Regions from separate parts of the Homo sapiens genome. Here region 2 is linked to region 1. The links come from fine-mapping of genetic effects on gene expression. A gene starts in region 1. The other region holds a variant in brackets. All regions are shown on one strand. Distances are from middle to middle.

Evidence for each region. PIP is the estimated chance that this variant, and not a neighbour inherited with it, causes the effect.
Region 2: its variant is the best candidate, but not a certain one, in a credible set for the expression of RUSC1 in prefrontal cortex (ROSMAP, PIP 0.89).

Annotation. Positions count from the first base shown.
Region 1 is chr1:155,319,281-155,323,280 of GRCh38, forward strand. RUSC1 (RUN and SH3 domain containing 1) reads left to right here and starts at 1,614. Exons shown (of 10, transcript NM_001105203.2): 1 at 1,614-1,711; 2 at 2,408-3,850. The coding sequence starts at 2,494. FDPS (farnesyl diphosphate synthase) reads left to right here. Exons shown (of 11, transcript NM_002004.4): 9 at 331-408; 10 at 514-648; 11 at 1,129-1,385. The coding sequence ends at 1,329. RUSC1-AS1 (RUSC1 antisense RNA 1) reads right to left here. Exons shown (of 6, transcript NR_145424.1): 2 at 2,963-3,157; 3 at 2,345-2,415; 4 at 523-652. RefSeq lists silencers at 1,556-1,705, 3,686-3,925 and an enhancer at 2,321-3,304.
Region 2 is chr1:154,778,032-154,782,547 of GRCh38, forward strand. The region is part of intron 2 of KCNN3 (potassium calcium-activated channel subfamily N member 3); the gene reads right to left. Among named protein-coding and RNA genes, the nearest start is that of KCNN3, 90 kb to the right of the region's middle. The variant T/C (reference allele first, on the strand shown) is at 2,960.

The DNA.
Region 1 (4,000 bases):
TCCTTTTCATCTTGAAAGAAGTTGGAGGTGGCAAAAATATTAGGAAGGTGGATCAGAATGACTTGGGGACTGACATTTGTGAGGGAAGAGACAGGCTGTGCACCTCTAGAATGGATTCATCTCTTTTATGACTCCCAGGAAGGCCTAGCCAAAAATAAGTGGGATTGAGGTTGGACCATCAGTCAGGACTGTCTAGGTCAGGGAAGCCAAGATGTCTGAAGAGAGAGGAAAGATTTGGGGCTGCAGTAGGGCAAGACCCCATGGGAGGAAGCAGCCAGGAAGATGCCGGCACCCCTGGGGTTTGGCTTATTAACCCCCCTTTCCCTGCAGGCAGGAATTGATGGCGAGAAGGAGCACGCCAATGCCAAGAAGATCCTGCTGGAGATGGGGGAGTTCTTTCAGATTCAGGTAAGAAGGCAGGAGGCAGTAGCAGAGAACAGGCACCAGCTTCACTCCTCCTCTGCCCAGGAACCTCATCCTTCCTCTTTTGCTGCCCTCCCCCTCCCTGCCCAGGATGATTACCTTGACCTCTTTGGGGACCCCAGTGTGACCGGCAAAATTGGCACTGACATCCAGGACAACAAATGCAGCTGGCTGGTGGTTCAGTGTCTGCAACGGGCCACTCCAGAACAGTACCAGATCCTGAAGGTGCCTGAGAGAGGGTGGTGGGTCCCTGAGTTGGTGGAAAGGGATAGAGCAGTGGTTCTCAACTAGAGGCAGTTTTCCTCCCGAGGGGACATTTGGCAATGTCAGCAGACATTTTTTGCCATTGTCATTACAACTCTGTGTGTGTGCATGTGGTACAGACATCTAGTTGGCAGGAGCCAAAGATGTTGCCAAACATGTAGTACACAGAACAGCTCCCCCAGACAGGATTATCTGGTCCCAAATTTCAATAGTGCCAAGGTGGAGAAACCCTGGAGTAGAGGATGCCTGGTATGAGGCAATATTTGGGATAGGGAAGGGAAGCTTGGGATTTTAGCTACGTAGAGACACTTGAAAATTGGAGGGAGGAAAGGAGTGGGTGGCTTTGGAGATGTTCTGGAATATGTGAATGAGGGGAGTGGAGGGGTCCTGGAGGCTCTGGGGAAGGCCAAGCCCGTTTTCCTGTCTTTCAACCTCTTCCAGGAAAATTACGGGCAGAAGGAGGCTGAGAAAGTGGCCCGGGTGAAGGCGCTATATGAGGAGCTGGATCTGCCAGCAGTGTTCTTGCAATATGAGGAAGACAGTTACAGCCACATTATGGCTCTCATTGAACAGTACGCAGCACCCCTGCCCCCAGCCGTCTTTCTGGGGCTTGCGCGCAAAATCTACAAGCGGAGAAAGTGACCTAGAGATTGCAAGGGCGGGGAGAGGAGGCTCTCAATAAATAATCGTGTAACCTTCTTGTGGTTCTGTTCTTGCTCGGCCCAGCCAGAGTCTGGCTCTTTCCAGAATGTGCAGGGTGGGGTGCTGGGAGGACTCGCTGCACGGAACCAGGACCCAGGGGCCAAAAGCTTAGGATATATCAAACCCTCTAGGTGGGTGACAAAAGACGCTAAACGCTGGGGGCGGGTCTGAGCTACGCCACGCCCATGCGCGAAGGGGTGCAGCTGCGCAGCGCAGGGTAGGTTGTGCTAGTGCCCCTCCCCTCCCGCTCTGTGCCCCGCCGGGCGGGGACCGTGGGAGCCGCGGACAAGCCCAAGGCCGGAGCGGTTCCAGGAGGACCCTGGTGAGGAGGGCTCGGCCCATGGGTGTAGACCGATGGACCTGGGCACGAGGGGCGGGGCAGGACAAGGGAGCAGGAGAAATGAATAGAGAAAGGGTGCGGTGGTGGCTGAACGATGGAGACGAATGCGGAGAGAATGGACATACCGCTGTTCCGAGGGGCGAGGGCGCAGGCTGGAGCCCGGCCGAGGCAGCCAGCAGATGCGGAGTTGACAAGCTGACGGCTGCTCCATCCTTTTCCTCTCCAGCCCCCACCCCTTTCCTGCATTCACCAGACAAACTCTGCGTATTGCCCCACCCCCATCCTCCACCTCCTTTCAGGGCATCTGGGTGGGTCTCCCTGGGTCCCTTCCTCTGGGAGTAAGGGGTAGGCTGGAGGGCAGGGCCAGATTGCGGCAGCAGGGACCTGGAGGTCCATTCTGGGCCCGGACCTCTTCCAGGCCCCCGCCCCCCTTCGGAGATCCAGAGCGCAGCCGCGTTCTCTGACCCTCCCGGCTCCATTCCCGGGGGGTTACATTCGACTCCATCTGCAAACACTGCAGTGGAAACTAATGGTCAGTCGATTGCGATTTGCATCTCATTGAAATATCTTCCAAAGCAGCCAGAGCCTTCAGGCCTGCTGCTGCCGTCAAGTCACCTCGGTGTCCTTCCCCGCAGCTCTTGTCCTCACTGGCCGGGCTTCACCACCTCTGTCTTCTAGGTCTGCACCTGTGGTTGCCAGGTAGGTGGATGTGAGAGACCCTACCCTTCTGGTTCTCTAGAAGCCATCCCATCGCCGCTAGCATCATGCTGTCCCCTCAGAGAGCTTTACTCTGCAACCTCAACCACATCCACCTCCAGCACGTCTCCCTGGGCCTGCACTTGTCCCGCCGTCCTGAGCTACAGGAGGGGCCTTTGAGCACACCCCCTCCTCCAGGAGACACTGGGGGCAAGGAGAGCAGGGGCCCCTGCAGTGGCACCCTGGTGGACGCCAATTCCAACAGCCCAGCTGTGCCCTGCCGGTGCTGCCAGGAGCACGGTCCGGGCCTAGAAAACCGGCAGGACCCGTCACAGGAGGAAGAGGGGGCTGCCTCTCCCTCAGACCCAGGCTGCTCCTCCTCACTCAGCTCCTGCTCAGATCTTAGCCCCGATGAGTCCCCTGTCTCAGTCTACTTGCGGGACCTCCCTGGTGATGAGGATGCCCACCCTCAGCCCAGTATCATCCCCCTGGAGCAGGGCTCCCCACTGGCTTCAGCAGGCCCTGGCACCTGCTCACCGGACAGCTTCTGCTGCTCTCCTGATTCCTGCTCCGGAGCTTCTTCTTCACCCGATCCTGGCCTGGACTCGAACTGCAACGCCCTGACCACCTGCCAGGACGTCCCTTCCCCAGGCTTGGAGGAAGAGGACGAGAGGGCGGAGCAGGATCTCCCTACCTCTGAGCTCTTAGAGGCGGATGATGGGAAAATCGACGCTGGGAAAACGGAGCCCAGTTGGAAGATTAACCCAATTTGGAAAATTGACACAGAGAAAACTAAAGCTGAATGGAAAACCACTGAAAACAATAACACTGGTTGGAAAAACAACGGGAATGTTAACTCTAGCTGGAAAAGTGAACCTGAAAAATTCGACTCTGGTTGGAAAACCAACACAAGAATAACTGATTCTGGCTCGAAAACAGATGCAGGGAAAATTGATGGAGGATGGAGAAGTGACGTCAGCGAGGAGCCGGTGCCCCACCGGACAATCACGTCCTTCCACGAGCTGGCCCAGAAGCGCAAGCGGGGCCCAGGGCTGCCCCTTGTCCCGCAGGCGAAGAAAGATCGCAGTGACTGGCTCATAGTCTTCTCGCCCGACACCGAGCTCCCCCCCTCGGGGTCGCCGGGCGGCTCCTCGGCACCTCCTCGGGAAGTCACCACCTTCAAGGAACTCCGGTCCCGAAGCCGGGCCCCAGCCCCGCCAGTCCCGCCTCGAGACCCCCCAGTTGGCTGGGCTTTGGTCCCGCCCCGGCCCCCACCCCCGCCTGTCCCTCCCCGAAGGAAGAAGAACCGACCTGGACTGCAGCCCATAGCGGAGGGGCAGTCCGAGGAGGGCCGGGCTGTCAGCCCAGCGGCTGGCGAGGAGGCCCCAGCCGCGAAGGAGCCGGGCGCGCAGGCCGGCCTGGAGGGTAAGAGGTCGCAAGAAGCGGGAGGAGGGCTGGGCTTCGGCCGCTCACGCCTCCTAGGCTTCCAACCCGGCCCCCTGTCTTCCCTCCATTCTGTGTCACCCATCCTCCCCGCCCCTTCTACCAGGGAGCGCTCCGGGAAAGGGAAACTGG
Region 2 (4,516 bases), 540 kb before region 1:
GATGCAATGTGTCAGTACCACAGTCTCTGGTTTCCTGAAAATTCCATTCTTTCCTCAGATAGTTGCTCTGTCCAGAGGTGGCTCTAGGCCTAATCCCTCTACCACTTAACTGGTGGTTCTGAGAACTTGCCGGATTTTCAGCCGTTAGTATAATTCTGAGAGCTCTGGGAGGGAGATTTTATGCAACAGTGATTCCAAACTTTCCTTTAAGGAGCTTGTAATTAGAGAAAAAGGAGAACTAACCCAACTCAGTTCAATATAATAATTATTAAGAATCAACAAGGTTAGGCCATTGTGGGTATATAAATCTGAATCAAACACATGTCCCATGAATCAGTGCACAATCTCAAGTAGTTCTAGCAAAAGACATGCATGATTAGGATGCAATTTGAAAAGCTTCTTGGGTTACATAGGGCTTCAGCAGCGCCCGGAAGGCATGCATCAGACACACCAGAGGGGGCAGCTTGCAGAAAAGGCCACAGATTCCTCCCATCCCATTCACTTACTTCTGTACATGTGACTTTGCCTCTCTTCCAATCAAGAAGTACAGCCTATTTCTCTCTCCCTCTCTCTCTGTCTCTTTTTTTTTTTTTTTTTTTTTTTTTGAGACAGAGTTTCACTCCTGTCACCCAGGCTGGAGTGCAATGGCACCATCTGCCTCCCGGGTTCAAGCGATTCTCCTGCCTCAGCCTCCTGAGTAACTGGGATAACAGGCACCCACAACCACACTTGGCTAATTTTTGTATTTTTAGTAGAGATGGGGTTTCACCATGTTGGCCAGGCTGGTCTCGAACTCCTGACCTCCAGTGATCCACCCACCTTGGCCTCCCAAAGTGCTGGGATTACACGTATGAGCCACCACGCCTGGCCAGTACAGCCTATTTCTCAATCCCTTCCGTCTGAACTTAGCCATGTACCTTGCTTTGGCCAGTGGAACATTAAAAAGTGTGATACAGCAGAGGTTTAAAAAATGTCATCGCCATGAGGCTCACTATAGACACATGGCCTCACTATCCCTTTCACCCCAGCCTGCAGCCAGTACCAGCTGCCAGCCATCAGAAGCCGTCCTAGACCAGCTGCATGACAGAAGCTCACCCAAGGTGAGACCAGCAGAAGAACCACCAAGCTGAGCCCAGCCCAAATGACTGACCCACAGAAACGTGACCTAAATTATTATTTTAAGCCATTATGTTTTGAGGTGCTTTGTTATGCAACAAAACTAATATATAACAAAACTAATTCTTATATTTGGCACATATTAGAAAAGCCAGGTCATGTGCCTACTGTGCCCAACATTTTCCTTTTAGATTCTTATGCCACAGCCCCTAGCAGGAACCCTCACCCGTCCCCACCTTCCCACTCCACTCAGTTATATTTGCTGGCCAGTCCTTCTCAAGTAACTGGGTGACTGGATGGGGAGGAGATCAGGGTCAAGGGCCATTCCTTGATGGCCATTCCCCCATCCCCACTCTCCCCATGGACACATGATTTGAGATATCAAAGAATAACTCAGAGCATTTAAAAAGTTATTTTGCAAGCAGTTTAGTTGTTTTGCATACAAAGTGTTTTCTCAGATGTGAGGAAGTCAGCTGGTAGACTGAATCAGGGAACAAGGGCACAACAGAATTAATGGGCAGGGGGGCCGCTGGAGAAAAACAGCAGGGAGTCTGGGAGCAGTGGACCTTGTTGGCAAATGCTGAGGGTAAATGGATTCGCTGGCAGCTAACAAAGAGGTCAGCATGGCATTCCATCCTTGGACGGCCAGCGAGGGATAGTACAGAAAGCACTTTCAGTTATTCAGGGATTCTTCAGAAGCCCTTGGCTTTCAGCTGTGGGTGTGTCACAGGCCCTCTCCCTTGTCACCTGCACCTCAGGGAGTCCAGGTCTGACCTTTCCCTGGTTAGAGTGTCTCGCCAAGCAAAGATGTCATCACCAGCTCACCACAAGGCCAACGCTGAAGGCCATCTGGACACCTCAGGACAGGGCCGTTCAGCTGCAATCTCTGCAGGGCCTGGGACAGGCTGCCTTGACAAGGAGACAAGGACACTACCCAGTGCCTCCAGCAGCCACATGGCACAGCCCGAGCTTCAGACTTGCGAGGCCTCCCCACATTTCCTGCAAAGGGGTAGGCATGCAGGGAAGCTTGCCTTTTTTCTTTTTTTCTTTTTTTTTTTTTTTTTTTTTTTTTAGGATAAGTTTAGAGTCGATTCATTGGATTCACTCGTTTTTCCCCCCATTCTATTTTGAAAGACTTGAGACCTTTCTGATTTTTTATTTAAGCAAAATCTGTCATTAAAATGTTCTCAGCTATCAGGGAGGAGAGCGTATTCCTGCTTAGACACTTTCTGACCAACCTGAAAAACTTTCACTCTTGCACAACTGTGAATTTCTCTAAATTAAAGGAGAGAAAATGGAAAAAGCCTTTTTGTGTACTGTTCTCTCTCTGTGGGGAGAAGAACTTCCGGGAAAATTTCCATCATTTAAAAAAACGACACAGAAACAAAGCAAGAAGAAAAAATTACAGATTTTCTTAAGATATATTATTTATATATATGTTTTATATTTTATATATATATATATACATATATAAATTTAAACACCCTGGAGCATATATTCTGCATGTACACCATTACTACGGGGGTTACCATGGAAGCAACATCAAAAATCCTGTAGTACCTAATTAGGTTTCCCTGAGGACAGGAGCTGATTGCCAGTGACGAAATGAACTTCTGGGTTTGCAGCAATGGTTGGTAAAATTACCAGTCAGCAAATGCTCCATGGAACTAGAGGAAGAAAGGGAGGCGGGTGGGGGTTGGGAAGCAAAGGTGGAAAAATGGTGGCTCTAAAAGAGGCCAGCCAGTGAACAGGCCTTGTCAGGGAAGTCTATGATTCTACCATAAACAAGATGCTTAGGGCGTTGGGGTCCACGCTACCCCGCTCTGTGTCTAAGAAGAAATTG[T/C]CCTCATCTGAAACCATCCCACTCCCTGGGCCATGTGTGATGTCCCACAGTGGCTCTTTGGTCCGGCCAGGATAGGCTTCTCCTGAGCGCTTCGCCAGAGCTCACTTTTGGTCTCTTGCAGTGTGTAATGACCACTCATGGGGGTTATGGAGTCTGAAGTTTGTTTGGGACTAACAGAGACCAGTGGTGATCATAAATCCTTTCCCCTGTCCTCAGTTCTCAGAGAAAGAAAGCCAAGTTTCGGCATTTGAGCGAGCCACTATTTTTTACTCACGTAGCAGGAATTTCTTGATCCCTGAGCACGTCACCACTAGGGATAGAGCATCCCACCTCTGGCCATCTGTGTGTGGCAAGTCTCTGGACCTCAGATTCCTCAGTGTAATGTGAAGACTTGGATGCAATTTGTGGTTTTCCATTTTCTCTGGGCTGTGGGGCCATTTCTTTCATAAGATTTTTCATGTACGCCCAACATGGGAAACAGACAAATTCAGAGCTGTTGTAGTTGAAAGGGTAGAGAAGAACATTCAAAGATCAACTCACTCACCTCCTCCTCCAGCCTAGGTCTCTGTAGTGGACCCCATGCTCTCCATAGAACCCTTTGACTGGAAATCCTTTGGATGGACCAGCTGGTCTCTAGTTGTAAGGAGAGACAAGGTGTGATGCTGGAAATCAAGTGTTTGGGGTCTGGTTCAAGAGGTGCTCGATGCACAGGCAGGGAGCTTTGCCCCGATCAGCTTATTCACTCATTCATTCATTGAGCATGAGTTGAGCCCCCATTATGTGACAGTCCTTGGTAAGCTCTAGGGATATAGCAAGACAAGTAGACAAGGCCCCTGTCCCCACAGAGCTTACATTTCAGGGGAGGAAAACAGATATTAAACAGGTAAACCATTTAATTTTAGAGAGTGATGCCTGCCAGGAAGAGAATAAGACAGGGCAAAGGAAATGAGAGAAGTCCCAGACAGCCAGGACAGGGAGGGCTCTCTATGGAAGGGACCTCTGAATCCAAAGTGAGCCTTGCAAAGGTATGCATTACAGAGGGGACAGCATGTGCAAAAACCCCAAGGCAGGATGGAGCTTAGAGAGTTGGAGAGATAAAAGAAAGAAGACCAATGTGAGAAAGAAGTGAGGGATGATACCAGGTGAGACCAAGAAGGTAGCAGGACCCAGATCATTGGGACCTTGGATGTCACAGAAGGAGCTTCCTCAAAGGACAGGAGACCACAGACCCACTCCCACCAGGGCCATGTGCACCATGTCACCACTTTCTGAAAACACACTGCCCACAGGTTAAATATGCACCACAGCTCGGGCCTCCGAAACAAAATATCATAGACTGGGTAACTCAAAAAACAGAAATGTATTTTTTCACAGTTCTGGAGGCTGGAAGTCTGAGATCAGGGTGCCAACACGGTCAGGCTCTCTTCCCGGCTTGCAGGTGGCTGCCATCTCACTGTGTCCTCACATGGCAGAGAAAGGGAGAGGGATCTCTCTTTTTCTCTTCTCCTAGAGCTGCAGTCCTATAGGACTAGACCTCATCCTTATGACCTTATTTAA